4 linked regions of the Homo sapiens genome follow. The protein of the gene in region 1 purifies or fractionates together with the protein of each later gene. This does not show direct contact. Each region holds a gene or a part of one and is shown in the gene's direction. Other genes may lie near its edges.

Region 1 (3,500 bases):
TACTGGTGGCATTATATCTGTCCTCTGGAAACATGGTGAAGACTATATTTCCTGACACCAAAGAAGGGAAAACAGGGCTCAAGAAGGTAGCTCACCATTTAACAGCTTGTGGTGAAACCCACCAGAATGGTGCAACACTGCATGGAGTTGATGTGTTGGAAAGTCAGGCTCTCCCACAGTACCTACCAGAGGACAGCGGGGCCGCTCACAGGAATGCTGGAATCCCCATCCAGCAACCCAGAGGGCATGCATGGCTATAGACTTAAAGATGCACCACCTTTTTTTTTTGAGGCGGAGTCTCTTTCTGTTGCCCAGGCTGGAGTGCAGTGGCACGATCTCGGCTCACTGCAAGCTCTGCCTCCCGAGTTCATGCCATTCTCCTGCCTCAGCCTCCCGAGTACTGGGACTACAGGCACCTGCCACCACGCCCGGCTAATTTTTTTTGTATTTTTAGTAGAGACGGGGTTTCACCATGTTAGCCAGGATGGTCTCGATCTCCTGACCTCGTGATCCGCCCGCCTTAGCCTCCCAAAGTGCTGGGATTACAGGCGTGAGCCACCGTGCCCAGCCAAGGTGCACCACCTTTAAATGCAAATTTTTGCATTTTTAGTAGAGATAGAGTTTCACTGTGCTGGCCAGGCTGGTCTCAAACTCCTAGCCACAGGTGATCTGCCTGCCTCAGCCTCCCAAAGTGCTGGGATTACAGGCATGACCCACTGCACCTGGCTGGGAAAATTGTTATAACATGGATTAAGCAGGAATACTATGATTACACACACACACACACACACACACAACGCGCACACACACACACACACACACACACACACCACCCCCTCACCTCTCCCAAGGGGAAAATGCATTGAAAAGGACTAGAAGTAAATATGTTATTCCAGGTTCTCTGGGCAAGGAGTTGATAGGTAAGGATTTGAGATGGAATAAAGGGGATATTTCATGGGAGCCTTGGTGCTGGTGTTTGGACCTGGTGAAATGACAGAAGAGCTGTCTGGAGCATGCATGGACAGGGTCTGCACAGAAAGACCTGTGGGGTGTGGAAATGGTGGTTTGGTCTGGCTGGAGGTGGGGTTAGAAGTGAAGGCTGGTGGCCGGGCGTGGTGGCTCACACCTGTAATTCCAGCACTTTGGGATCCTGAGGCAGGCGGATCACCTGAGGTCAGGAGTTCGAGACCAGCCTGACCAATATGGAGAAACCCTGTCTCTACTAAAAATACAAAATTAGCTGGGCGTGGTGGCGCATGCCTGTAATCCTAGCTACTCCAGAGGCTGAGGCAGAAGAATCACTTGAACCCGGGAGATGGAGGCTGGGGTGAGCCAAGATCGTGCCAGCCTGGGCAACAAGAGTGAAACTCTGTCTTAAAAAAAAAAAAAAAAAAAGTGAAGGCCAGGCGTGGTGGCTCACGCCTGTAATCCCAACACTCTGGGCTCTGGAAATCTGAGGTGGGTGGATCTCCTGAGGTCAGGAGTTCGAGACCAGCCTGGCCAACATGGTGAAACCTTGTCTCTACTAAAAATACAAAAAATTAGCCAGATGTGGTGGTACACGCCTGTAATCCCAGCTACTCGGGAGGCTGAGGCAGGAGAATTGCTTGACCCCAGGAGGCGGAGGTTATAGCGAGCTGAGATCGTACCACTGTACTCCAGCCTGGGCAACAGAGCGAGACTCCATCTTTAAAAAAAAAAAAGGAAGTGAAGAGCAGGGCCAGGGTGGGTCGAGGGCTCTTTTAAGTACTTAGGGAGATGACCTTGTCTTTGACCAGACTGAGATAGCAGCTTACAGAGGGAGCGAGAAACCCTGAACATGGAGAAGATTTAAAAGGTAGCATGGGGTTGGCTCTGACAGTATACCTTCTCTCTGAATGAGTCTTTTGTGTCCTTCTCTTCAGGTTCAGATTCAGAACAAGAAAGTGGACATCTCTAAGGTCTCCTCCAAGTGTGGGTCTAAGGCTAACATCAAGCACAAGCCTGGTGAGTGGTGCCTCCCTTGCCCACTGGGTCTCCAGGGTATGTCGTCCTGCCATGGGTCAGCTGGGCAGCCAGCTGGCTGGCAAGGGTTTCATCTCTGTGCCTTTAGCATCCCATGAAGACTACCCAGGACACCACAGTCCTCATTCTGTCAGGGAGCAGGAGTTCGGGTGCTAACCTCTAAGTGGAGGAGGAGCAGTTTCTTACAGCAGCCATCTGCACAGGCATTCTCTTGAGTACCTACTGTGTGTGTGGAACTATTGAGCTAGGCCTGGGGAAGTGGTGCACTCTGAGCTGAGAACCTGGATTGGCTCTAAACGAGGATTACAGAAGCTACTGCTGAAGGAGCTGTATAGAGGGCAGTGTTCAGGTCCCACCTATCAGATGCAGGAGCAAAGGGTGCTCCCAACCAGTGAAGCATCAGCCGCTAGCCCTGGCAGGAGAATGGGAGGCGTTCAGCAACTTGCACTAATGCAGTTTCCTTCCAGCAACATGGTTGGCCCAGCGCCCCTGTGGAAGTCGCTGTGCGGAGGCTGGGCTCTTGCCTTGGGTAGTCCCCTAGCAGCCTCGTGTCCTAGTTCCTGGGTCTACAGCAGATTTGTGAGTAGGACTGCTGTAGCAGCAGGCACACTGGCTGGCAGACCTGGTATCCCAGAAGGCTAGCCACCACAGGCCAGATAAGGTGAAGGCAAAACTCTCTTCCCTCAGGGCGGGCGCGGTGTCTCATGCCTGTAATCCCAGCACTTTGGGAGGCCAAAGCGGGCGGATCACTTGAGGTCAGGAGTTTGAGAACAGCCTGGCCAACATGGTGAAACCCTGTCTCTACTAAAAATACAAAAACTAGCTAGGTGTGGTGGTGCATGCCTTTGGAGAATTGCTTGAACCCAGGAGGCAGAGACTACAGTGAGGCGAGAGTATGGCACTGCACTCCAGCCTGAGCAACAGAGCGAAATTCTGTCTCCAAAAAGAAAAAAAAAAAACTCCCTTTCCCTCTCAGCGAAGAGCATGATCCAGTTTAGAATGTGTTCTATTTAGAAAGATCAAAACAGTTCTGTCCTTAACTAACCATTTTTTTCCCCTTTTATCTGGGAAATCTCCTATCAGATACTTCCTTCTCTAATGACACTGAGTCACTTAGGGTCTAGTTTTTGCCAGGGCTGGGTTTCCCAATATGGGACACCGGGAGACCTCGGCCAGAAGCTGTGCGTGGAGGTCTGCCATGTGAGCTGAGAGGAGATGGAAGAACAGGAGAAGGGGCCCAAGGGAAACCACGCTGCTGGGCGCGGGAGGGGCTGGGTACTCATTGAGGGCAGCTCGTCCCGCACCCTTCCCCTTGGTCTCATGGGCACACTCTGGCCAGTGAGCTCTGAACCCTGGGCGTGAGTTCAGACCACTTTCCCTCCCCGTCCTAGCCTGAGGTCACTAGATCCCAGGCCTGCCTTGGTCCATGTCTTTCCTTCCTCAGCGCACAGCCTCGGGGCCACTCTGTCCTTTTTATTATTCCTTCTTTTTGCTAG
Region 2 (3,500 bases), on another chromosome or scaffold:
TCTGATGATGTAAACTTAGAATTGTGACCTCATTGCAGGCATCAACAGGAAATAGGTAAGGCATGGGCAGGAAGCCGTAACTGGGGAAGTTTCTGGGCCCAGAAGAAAATGTAGGTAGTCTTAGGGTTAGGTAGCAGCTGTCAGGAACTTGCCCCTGCCCATAAGATCCTAAAGGGCCCCCATTTGACTCTCACCAGACAGTTAGAACTTGTTTCCTCCTCCGTGTCAGCCATCAAGAGGTGCTTGGGGGGCTGTGCCCAGCAGGACCTCACTGCCCAGCAGATCAGCAGGGGAGCCAAGTGGCCTAGATCTGCTGTGGAGTACCCGACTGTTTGCCTGCCTGTCTGCCCTCCTCTTCACCTCATTCTCATCACTGACGTCTACCATTGGCTTGGAAATCAGAAACCCATATCCATCTAGATGGTAAACCATTATTAAGGAGTAACTATTTGTTTTATAGCTATTCATACTTAGTGGAACTTAAAGTTGGTAAAGTTTGAATTTAGGGGTACCCCTGTCTATAGAAATTTAATTTTTTCTATGTTGTTTTTTTGTTTGTTTGTTTGTTTTTTGTTTTTTGAGACAGAGTCTTGCTCTGTTGCCCAGGCTGGAGGGCAGTGGCTCAATCTCAGCTCAATGCAACCTCCGCCTCCTGGATTCCAGCAATTCTCCCGCCTCAGCCTCGGGGGGGCCAGGCACAGTGGCTCACACCTGTAATCCCAGCACTTTAGGAGGCCGAGGTGGGGAGATCACCTGAGGCCAGGAGTTTGAGACCATCCTGGCCAACATGGTGAAACCCTGTCTCTACTGGAAATACAAAAATTAGCTGGGCGTGGTGGCGCATGCCTGTAGTCCCAGCTACTCAGGAGGCTGAGGCAGGAGAATTGCTTGGACCCAGGAGGCAGAGGTTGCATTGAACCAAGATCGCACCACTGCCCTCCAGCCTGGGCGACAGAGCGATACTCTGTCTCAAAAAAAAAAAAAAAGAAAAAATGTATTTGGATTGAACAATGTTGTTTCATTGAAACTTTTACTTGCTCCTTGCAGATTGATTTTGATGATGTGGCTGCAATAAACCCAGAACTCTTACAGCTTCTTCCCTTACATCCGAAGGACAATCTGCCCTTGCAGGAAAATGTAACAATCCAGGTAGGTGCCTGTCATCTGGCTGCAGCCAGTGCGCCAGAGAATTCACTTTGCTTATTGACTCTTTGCTGATTGATTGTCTGGCATTTTAGCATAGTACATGGGCCCAGGATGGGCCCTTGAGAATTGATAAGAGCCATATATTGTGACAATTTGATTTGTTTTTCAGAAACAAAAACGGAGATCCGTCAACTCCAAAATTCCTGCTCCAAAAGAAAGTAAGTGGATTTCTACTAGCTTACTATCATGGAATTTGTGTCAGGAATTATGTTTCTAGGACTCAGAGTTGTGGAAGCTCCTCTTTTGCAGGTGGTTTCTATGTGGGTTGAGTCCTGCCTGTGTTCCAAGCATCTTTCTCTATGAGAAAGAATCCAATCTACAGCTATCAGGCCAACCTTTAAGAGACCTGGTGCATTTAGGAAATTTGCTGCCTGGCCTAGAAACCTTTTCTGTAGAATCCAGAGCCTGATGCTGAGGAGAGTAGGAATCAGCCATTGGTAGGCCTTTTTTCTTCCCTCGGGGCTCAGCCCCCTCAGTGGAACAGTATGCCTTGGAAAGAGATTTTGAAAATGGGAGACACTAGGCCTGTGGGTTGTTTAGAAGTACAGTTGGTGGCGCTATAGAGAGGGATGGCTGGGGCTGGAGAGAATAACAGCATTGCCTCGTGGTCTAGGAGGTTGGGAGTCTCTCTGCAGAAGTAGTCTGTGAAAACCTACTTTGACAACATGATAGACTGTGACTCTAGGGGGTAAGCTTCCCAAAAGATCCAGCTTAAAGCCAGTTGTACCTTGAAGGCTGGTGACCTGCACAGCTCTCCAGGTCTAGGGGTCATCATTGCCCTGAAATGATTCAGCTACCTCAGGGACTCACAGAATACTTGGCTGGAGCTTCAGGTTCTGGGGGCCCTGAGTGGAAGGTGGTGCCATTGCAAGCTTGGGCCTGACTATTGTGGTGCTGGCCCTTTCTTGCTGGGTGTACCGTAAGGTCATGCAGGAGAGTTGGGACTCGCAGCAGTCCCATTCCGTGTTCATGTCCTCAAAGGATATTGCCCCAGCTTTGTTTTGTTTTGTTTTTCAAAGGCAGGGTCTCACTTGGTTGTCCATGCTGGAATACCATGATATGATCGTAGCTCACTGTAGCCTTGAACTCTTGGGCTCAGGCAATCCTCCCACCTCAGCCTCCCATGTAGCTGGGACTACAGGTGTGCCCCATCACACCTGGCTAATTTTTTTTTTTTTTTTTTTTGTAGAGACAAGGTCTCACTATGTTGCCTGGGCTGGTCTCAAACTCCTGGCCTCAAGTGATCCTCCTGCTTCAGCCTCCTAAAGTGCTAGGATTGCAGGCGCGAGCCACCATGCCCAGCCAATAGCTTTTTTTCTTTAGGATGGAGTCTCGCTTTGTTGCCTAAGCTGGTCTTGAACTCCTAGCTTCAAGCAGTCCTCCTGCCTCAGCCTCCCAAAGTGCTGGGACTACAGGCACACACCACCATGCCCAGCTACACAGCTCATTTTAATGGAAAAAAAAATCTTTAAGGCCCTGAGCAGTAGCTCATGCCTGTAATCCCAGCACTTTGAGGGGCCAAGGTGGGCAGATCACCTGAGGTCAGGAGTTCCAAGCCAGCCTGGTCAACATGGTGAAACCCTGTCTCTATTCAAAATACAAAAAACTGGCCGGGTGTGGTGGCTCACACCTGTAATCCCAGCATTTTAGGAGGCCAAGGCGGGTGGATCACCTGAGGTCAGGAGTTCAAGACTAGCCTGGCCAACATGGTGAAACCCCTGTCTCTACTAAAAATACAAAAATTAGCCAGGCGTGGTGGTGGGTGCCTGTAATCCCAGCTACTCAGGAAGCTGAGGCAGGAGAATCGTTTGAGCCCGGGGGGGCAGAGGTTGCAGTGAGCCGAGATCATGCCACTGTACTCCAGCCTGGGTGACAGAGTGAGACTCGGTCTCAAAAAAACAAAGAAAAAAAATTACAGATCATTTGGGGCTAGATGTGATGGCTCACACCTGTAAGCCCAGTGCTTTGGGATGTTGAGGCAGGAAGATGGCTTGAACCTAGGAGTTTGAGACCAGCCTGGGCAATATAGCAAGACTCAGTCTTATTATAAAAATAAAAAATAAAATAAAATCATTAGGGAAATAGGACGATTGTAAAAATTCAAAACATGGATTATATATAGCCATCAGCCTGAACTTATAATACTCAGAAACTGGGTAGAAGTTGGTTTTGGCAGAGGTTGCAGTGAGCCAAGATCATGCCACTGCACTCCAGCCTGGGTGGCAGTGTGAGACTCTGTCTCTCAAAAAAGATGGGCTGGGCACGGTGGTTCACACCTGTAATCCCAGCACTTT
Region 3 (4,145 bases), on another chromosome or scaffold:
TCTGTTTCCCATCTCATCTATTCCTATCACCCATTGCCGTTATGCCGAGTGGGCACTATTCACGGTATGCGAGCTGATGGCTTTCCTGGCACTCAACACGTTAGAGTACCTAGTGTGATAAGAATAGAATAGTCTGGGGTCTGAAGGAGCTCACAGTCTAGCAGAGACGGGTCTACACACACAAGTAACTCCAATAACGAAAGCAAGACGGTAATAAGTGTTATAAATGGCGGGGGGCGGTGGCTCACGCCTGTAATCCCAACACTTTGGGAGGCCGAGGTGGGCGGATCAAGAGGTCAGGAGATCGAGACCATCCTGGCTAACACGGTGAAACCCCGTCTCTACCAAAAATACAAAAAAAATTAGCTTGGCGTGGTGGCGGGCGCCTGTAGTCCCAGCTACTTGGGAGGCTGAGGCAGGAGAATGGCGTGAACCCAGGAGGCAGAGCTTGCAGTGAGCCGAGATCGCGCCACTGCACTCCAGCCTGGGCGACAGAGTGAGACTCCGTCTCAAAAAAAAAAGTATTATAAATGAGGTGCTACAGAGGAGAGGAATCTTTTCCGTCCAGAAGAGAGAGATATGGTGATGGGAAGGGAGCAAGGAAGTCCTCATCTAGGAGTCCAACCCCCCAGAATGGCAGGTAGGCACTCCCTAGTAGGTGTTCAATAAATATTCGTGTCTTCGTCCCTTCACATTCTAACCCCAGTCTAACTTTCCTTCAGCCTACCAAAGCCCTGTGTTCCTCCACAGAATGCCGCTTCGTGCCACTGTGCCTTCTGCATCCCCAGTTCTCTCCTCCTGGAATGGAATGTTCTTGCCAATAATGAGCGAGCGGTGCCATGAAACAGAGCTCGGGAGGGTACACAGCATAACAGTTAAGCGCGCAGGCTATCGAGGCCAGCCTTCGGCCCATCCGTAAAAAGGAGATAAGATTTATTTCATAAGGCTGCACCGTGGATTAAATGGACATTCCGGTAAAGCTTTTATTTCAGTCCAGCGCGGAAGGAGGGCTCAAGTAATACTCGCAACGTTTGTGCGAGCGTGGCCACCTTCTCCGCCCGTCCCGTCTCCCCGGCGCCGCTCAAGAGCCGCCCCCTGTCCGCCTCAGCGGCGCCCAGGCACCCAGCAGCGTCCGCGCTGCCACGTCGCCTTCGCTCACCCCAGCAACAGCCGGGTTGACCAGACCGGGGCCCTGAGCTGGGTACCCAGGGCACCGGGCCGCGCCCCACACCCTGCCTGCGCCTTCCGATTGGCTCCTGCAGGTGCCCGTCGTCAGAGGCCGTTGCTGATTGGCTTAGATGGGGGACGGGGCGGGCCTCTAGGAGTGAAGGAAAGGCGGGGACCCGGATGTGTGTGGTGGCGGCGGCCGAAGAGCTTGTGTGCGGAGCTGAGAGGCCTATGGATGAGGAGGACGCGGCGGCCCCGGTAGGCGGGGATCGGGGGCGGGGTCCCGGAGGCCTCGTATCTCCCCGGAGCCTGAAGCGGAAGGCGGGGGTCCTGGGCGGGGGCTCTGGGGCCAGGGGCGGGGCCCTGCGCTCTGGTCACTGGGCTTCTTCTGTTGCTGCACCCTCGGCCCAGTGCAGGGCCTGGGGAGACTGGGCGTAGGCACACGGATGGGCTGGGGCCCGGCTGCTCCCGGGTCTCATCTCAGTGATCAGGCCGTGCCCGGGGAGGAGACAGGGCCCAGTAGGGCCGCCACTCGCCGGTGCCAAGACTGTGGGGTCTGCGCAACCAGCATCTACCTGGGGTTGAGTCCTGGCTGAGTGCCCGGGAGTGGAATCTTAGGGCTGTCTGTCCCACAGGTGCCTACTCTTCTGGGCCACGTGGTGGGTTGTAGCTACTGCATAAGAGTCGTAATTTGCGTATTGGGATCAAATTCAGCCCAGCCAAGGCTTACTAAGCACCTACCGTGTGCAAGGCAATGTCAGGCCTCAAGAAAACCCCTGTCCCAGTGTTTAGGGAATGGGAAGAGAAGAGTACTTCACCTCTTTCTCACTTTTGGCTCCCAGGAAAAATCATTCATTCATTTATATGTAGGGACTGATGGTTGTTTAAATACCTGGATCATCCCACCCCCATCCATCGGCGCTGCTACCGACTTAGTGGATGTCATTTCTCATGTGAACTGCTGCAACAACGTCTGAATTGTTTGCCCACATCTGTTCTTGATCCTCTTGTGATCAGTTCTCCAACCAGCAGCTGGAATGATCTTTAGGAACTGATTAAGATCGTGGCTTTTTTTTTTTTTTTTGAGATGGAGTTTCTGTCACCCAGGCTGGAGTGCAGTGGGACGATCTCGGCTCACTGCAAACTCCACCTCCCAGGTTCAAGCAATTCTCTTGCCTCAGCCTCCTGAGTAGCTGGGATTACAGGTGCGCACCACCACGCCTGGCTAATTTGTTTGTATTTTTAGTAGAGATGGGGTTTCACCATGTTGGTCAGGCTGGTCTTCAACTTCTGACCTTGTGATCCTCCCACTTCGGCCTCCCAAAGTGCTGGGATCACAGACGTGAGCCACCAGGCCCAGGATCATGGCATTTTTTTTTCTTTTTTTTTTGAGACAGGGTCTTGCTCTGTCAGCCAGGCTGGAATGTAGTGGCACAATCAGAACTGACTGCAGCCTTGACCTGCCAGACTCAAGCCATCTTCAGTCTCCTTAGTAGCTGGGACTACAGGTGCATGCTGCCACACCTGGCTCATTGTTTTAATTTTTAGTAGAGATGAGGTCTCACTACGTTGCCCAGGCTGGTCTGGGTCCTGGCCTCAAGCGATCCTCCTGCCTCAGCCTCCCAAGGTGCTGGGATTGCAGGCATGAGCCATCATACCCAGCCAATCATGGCATTTCCTTGCTTACAACCCTCCAGAAATTTCCATCTTGGAATAAAATCCAGAGTCCTTACCATTTCATTGTCTGTAGGGCCATGATCTGACTCCTGCCTTATTCTCATCTTGTACATTCTCCCTCACATTCCCTATATACCAGCTGTCCATGCCTTTTTCTGTTTCTCTACCATGCCAGCTCTCTTCCATCCAAGGACCTGTGGCTGCCCTTCCTGCCTGGAATATGCCTGGCTTGTCATGCCTAGCTCCTTTTCAACTCAAATGTCACCTCCTCAGAGAGACCGCCTCTGTCCACTCTATCCACTGCCTCCAGATTCTTTATCATATCACCCTGTTCTTTTCTCCACTGCCTGAAATTATGTCTGTTTATTGCCTGTCGTGTCCACCTCCCAGCCTGTGAGAATGGGAATCCTGTCCATCTTGTTCACAGCTCCATCCCTAGCACGGAGAAAAGCACACAGAGTAGGTGCTTGGTAAATGTTTGTTGAATGGAAGAAAGAAGATGAGGGTTGTTGAGGTCAATCTGGGCAGCTGGCCTCAAGGCCAGTGCCTTCTCTACCTTCTGGGTCACAGAGGCTGAGGTGCTTTACCTAGGGCCCTGCTTTCTCCTCAATCCCCTTCTCCCCTTGGCAGGTTTGTTCTCATGAACAAGATGGATGACCTCAACCTGCACTACCGGTTTCTGAATTGGCGCCGGCGGATCCGGGAGATTCGAGAGGTCCGAGCTTTCCGATATCAGGAGAGGTTCAAACATATCCTTGTAGATGGAGATACTTTAAGGTGAGTTCAGGAGAATGCTTCCACATTTTCTTCTCTGTTCCAGATCTTAGAGAGGAAAGGGTTTTTTTTTTTTAACTTTTATTTTTTCAGAGAAGGGGACTGTGCACTGCACAGGGAAGGGCGATGCTCTTGACTCCAGAGGCCTTTCTTTTTCTTTTTTTTTTTTAAGACAGAGTCTCGCTCTGTCACCCAGGCTACAGTGCAGTGGCGTGATCTCAGCTCACTGCAACCTCCGCCTCCTGGGTTCAAGCGATTCTCCTGCCTCAGCTTCCCAAGTAGCTGGGATTACAGGCGTGCACCACCACATACGGCTGATTTTTTATATTTTTGGTAGAGACAGGGTTTCACCATGTTGGCCAGGCAGGTCTTGAACTCCTGACTTCAAGTGATCCACCCGCCCAGAGGCCTTTCTGAGTGGAGCAGTGTGTGCTGCTTCACCCTGCACTCACCTCTGCCTCTGTCACTGGGTGGCTCTGTCCTCATCCAGCAAGGAGGGGATCCAGCTGGGTAGGGGAAGGGATCAC
Region 4 (3,500 bases), on another chromosome or scaffold:
ACAAATGATGGTTGTGTCTGTACTGAACATGTACAAATTTTTTTTCCTTGTCATTATTTCCTAAACAATATAACAACTATTTACATAGCATGTACATTTATTAGGTATTTTAACTAATCTAGAGATGATTTAAAGTATATGGGAGATGTGCTTAGGTTATATGCAGATAACTATTTTATATAAGGGACTCCAGCATCCTTGGATTTTGGTATCTGAGGGATTCATGGAACCAGTCCCCCACAGATACTGACGAAAGACTGTAATTTTGGATTGACTGAGAAAAAGAAAAAAGCAAACTCCAGTGATCACAAATCTTTCTAGAAAAATGTTTTTGAAGGAGCATTTCTTTTTTCAGGATACTATGGAATTCATAAGAAGTTTTCAGTCAGAAGCACCATTAAAGAGAGGCATTGTTTCAGCTCAAGATGCTTCACTTCAGGAAAGAGTGTTAGCTCAGGTAAATACATGGATCCTGAAGGCTTTTAAGACATGGACATATTATATTTCTCCTTTTTTATTTAATCACTGAAAATAGGTTTCAATGAAAACTATTTTAATCTTTTTCTATAAATAAGTGTACATGGTATATAGTATTCCTGAACTCTAACCTCATCTTTTAAATGTATACAATATTTTCTTCTCTTGTGCCTAGTTGCGAGCTGCCTTGTACGGTATTCATGACATATTCTTTGTAATGGATGCAGCTGAAAGAATGTCTATTCTACATCATGATCGAGAAGTTCGCAAAGAGAAAATGCTCAGGCAAATGGTATGTTATATGATTTCTAATGAATAGAGTTCTTCTGGGTTTAGGGTAATTGATACTAAATGTCAGTTTTGGTTGACTTCAGCACCCTTCTTCTGATAATTCTTAAGCACAAGTAATTCCTGGAATTACTAGCAGCATTTAAATCTGTAGACAGATTTAAAAGAATTACATCATTTAAGAATTACATATTGTTTTCTTATTGGATTTTAGAGTTGAAGCTTTGAATGTTTTGCTCAGATGGCTTATACAATCTATCAGCTGCTCCTGATTGAATTTCCTTGAATTCAATTATAATGTGGGTTTTGCTTTTTTTGAAATCTGAGTTAGAAAACAGGCTCCAAGTTAATTTGAAGTATATCAGAGTATGTGATTTGAATCAGTTATCTTAGTGTGATTGGCAAAGGAAAAGCAAGCAAAATTTACATAATTCTAATTATTTAATTCTTAGAATTAGACTGCTTCAAAAATACAAAACAAGATGATTTAACTAAATTAAAAATGTTAGTAGAGAGAAGCTTTTCCAGGCAATGTGGGATTATAATACATTATAATATAGTGGTATTAATTGGTTCCAGTAGAGTTTGACGTTACTTTTGTATATTAAAGGATAAAATGAAAAGTCCACGAGTGGCTCTTTCAGCTGCAACACAGAAGTCTCTTGATAGGAAGAAATACATGAAGTAAGTTTTTTGTATCATGTCATGTTAGTTATCAAACCAATTAATTTTAGTCATCTGTTGGTCTATTTGCATATTTAAATTTAGAAATAAAGAGTTAATTTTTCTGCAGTTGAGCTGATAGAAATCCCCTTTATATAAAGAAATTTATTAAAATCAGGTGCTAAAATCTCATTTCATCTTAGATGAATTTATTTACTAAATTTGACAACATTCAACTCATATAACTGATAGCTGGTTAATCTTAAAAACAGTTAATCTTTATATTCAGTGCCTAAATATATTCCTTTTCTGATGTCCTAAAGGTTTCTTGGGAATAAAGACTTAATGGGAAAAATATCTTAATAACTTTTTTAAAAAATTCTTCTTTCTTGAATGCAGTCTTTAATATGCTTAGTACAGGTCTTCCAGTAGTACACCAGCTTCTAAATGATGATTTGTTTCTGTCATCCTGTATTACATTTGTAAGCATGTTTTCTTCCCTTCTCTAAATACATTATGTCCTTATTTTTATATTGTGTTAGAGCTGCTGAAATGGGAATGCCAAATAAGAAATTTCTGGTTAAACAAAATCCTTCTGAAACAAGGTGAGAAAAATCACTTAGTCTTAATGAGAGGCTTTTTGTTTTTTATAGAAAAAAAAAATTGGCTGGGCACGGTGGCTCACGCCTGTAATCCCAGAACTTTGGGAGGCCAAGACGGATGGATCACCTGAGGTCGGGAGTTTGAGACCAGCCTGACCAACATGGAAAACCCCATCTCTACTAAAAATACAAAATTAGCTGGGTGTGGTGGCACATGCCTGTAATCCCAGCTACTCAAGAGGCTGAGGCAGGAGAATCGCTTGAACCCGGGAGGCAGAGGTTGCAGTGAGCCAAGATTGCTCCATTGCACTCCAGCCTGGGCAACAAGAGTGAAACTCTATCTCAAAAAAAAAAAAAAAAAAAGTTAAAAAATTAAAATTTAAATCCCAAACTTCATTTTTGTTGACTTTGTTCTACTTGACATCAGTAGAGCACTTCTTGCTGAATTGGGTCGGGGGTCGTCCTCAGGCTCAAGATTCATACCAATACCTGGCCATATACCTAGTCACATGTCAGACCAGATGTGCCCGGACCTTTTGTAGGACATGCTATCTGTGGTAGAAATTTTGAGCGTGGTATGTCTTGAGTTCAGTTAGACAGTCCAGAGGATCTTTGATACTTATTTAAAAACCTTAGAAAGCTAATTTAAGCTGGGCTGGGAGCAGTGGCTCATGCTTGTTATCCTAGCAGTCTGGGAGGGTGAGGTGGGTGGATCACGAGGTCAGGAGTTCAAGACCAGCCTGGCCAAGATGGTGAAATCCTGTCTCTATTAAAAATACAAAAATAAAAGATACAAAAAGCCGGGTATGATGGCGCGTGCCTGCTCAGCTACTCAGGAGGCTGAGGCAGGAGAATTGTTTGAACCTGGGAGGCGGAGGTTGCAGTGAGCCGAGACTGCACCACTGTACTCCATCCTGGGCGACAGAGCAAGGGTCCGTCTCAAAAAAAAGCTAACTTAAGCTGGGCACAGTGGCATGCTCCTATGGTCCCAGGTACTCGGGAGGCTGAGGCAGGAGGATAGCTTAAGCCCAGAAATTCAAACCAGTATGGGTAACATAGTAAGACCCATCTCAAAAAAATAAATAAATAAAAAATAAAGCTAAAAAGCGAACTTTAATATTTCTGACCTGTTTTTTACTCCTGTAAAATGAGAGTGATACTTTCTTCTCTCACTGGTTTGAAGGGAAAAGTTAGCTTTTGTAAAGCATATGTATAAGAAAATTATCTAAAAGCACAAGGGTTAGTCTATATGTTGGACATTTCTTTGCTGATAAAAACCTAAGGTTTGGACTCTTAGTGAGCAAAATACAAGTATCATATTAATATGCTTTAGTCGATTTGCTCTGATTTGTGGTAATATATAGGCCATATTATTGCATAGTTGACCTTTACCTTACAGTCATCATCTTTCATCCGTTGAAAGAAAATGGGAAAAAATGGAATTTAACCTATTAAATTAATTTTTCATTT

The links.
Region 2: the proteins of MAP4 (region 1) and KIF2C purify together in Homo sapiens (affinity purification with mass spectrometry; one large-scale study listed by BioGRID and IntAct). This does not show direct contact.
Region 3: the proteins of MAP4 (region 1) and SPRYD3 purify together in Homo sapiens (affinity purification with mass spectrometry; one large-scale study listed by BioGRID and IntAct). This does not show direct contact.
Region 4: the proteins of MAP4 (region 1) and CCP110 purify together in Homo sapiens (affinity purification with mass spectrometry; one large-scale study listed by BioGRID and IntAct). This does not show direct contact.

Annotation. Positions count from the first base shown.
Region 1 is NC_000003.12:47,855,917-47,859,416, reverse strand, and holds part of MAP4 (microtubule-associated protein 4), read left to right. Parts: intron 1-1,904; coding exon 1,905-1,986; intron 1,987-3,500. UniProt on the Homo sapiens protein: Non-neuronal microtubule-associated protein. Promotes microtubule assembly.
Region 2 is NC_000001.11:44,746,337-44,749,836, forward strand, and holds part of KIF2C (kinesin-like protein KIF2C), read left to right. Parts: intron 1-57; exon of another isoform or gene 58-420; coding exon of another isoform or gene 421-423; intron 424-1,047; coding exon 1,048-1,149; intron 1,150-1,315; coding exon 1,316-1,364; intron 1,365-3,500. UniProt on the Homo sapiens protein: In complex with KIF18B, constitutes the major microtubule plus-end depolymerizing activity in mitotic cells. Regulates the turnover of microtubules at the kinetochore and functions in chromosome segregation during mitosis.
Region 3 is NC_000012.12:53,076,591-53,080,735, reverse strand, and holds the start of SPRYD3 (SPRY domain-containing protein 3), read left to right. Parts: upstream 1-1,345; 5' UTR 1,346-1,402; coding exon 1,403-1,425; intron 1,426-3,474; coding exon 3,475-3,621; intron 3,622-4,145.
Region 4 is NC_000016.10:19,544,442-19,547,941, forward strand, and holds part of CCP110 (centriolar coiled-coil protein of 110 kDa), read left to right. Parts: intron 1-355; coding exon 356-457; intron 458-652; coding exon 653-769; intron 770-1,375; coding exon 1,376-1,449; intron 1,450-1,970; coding exon 1,971-2,033; intron 2,034-3,500.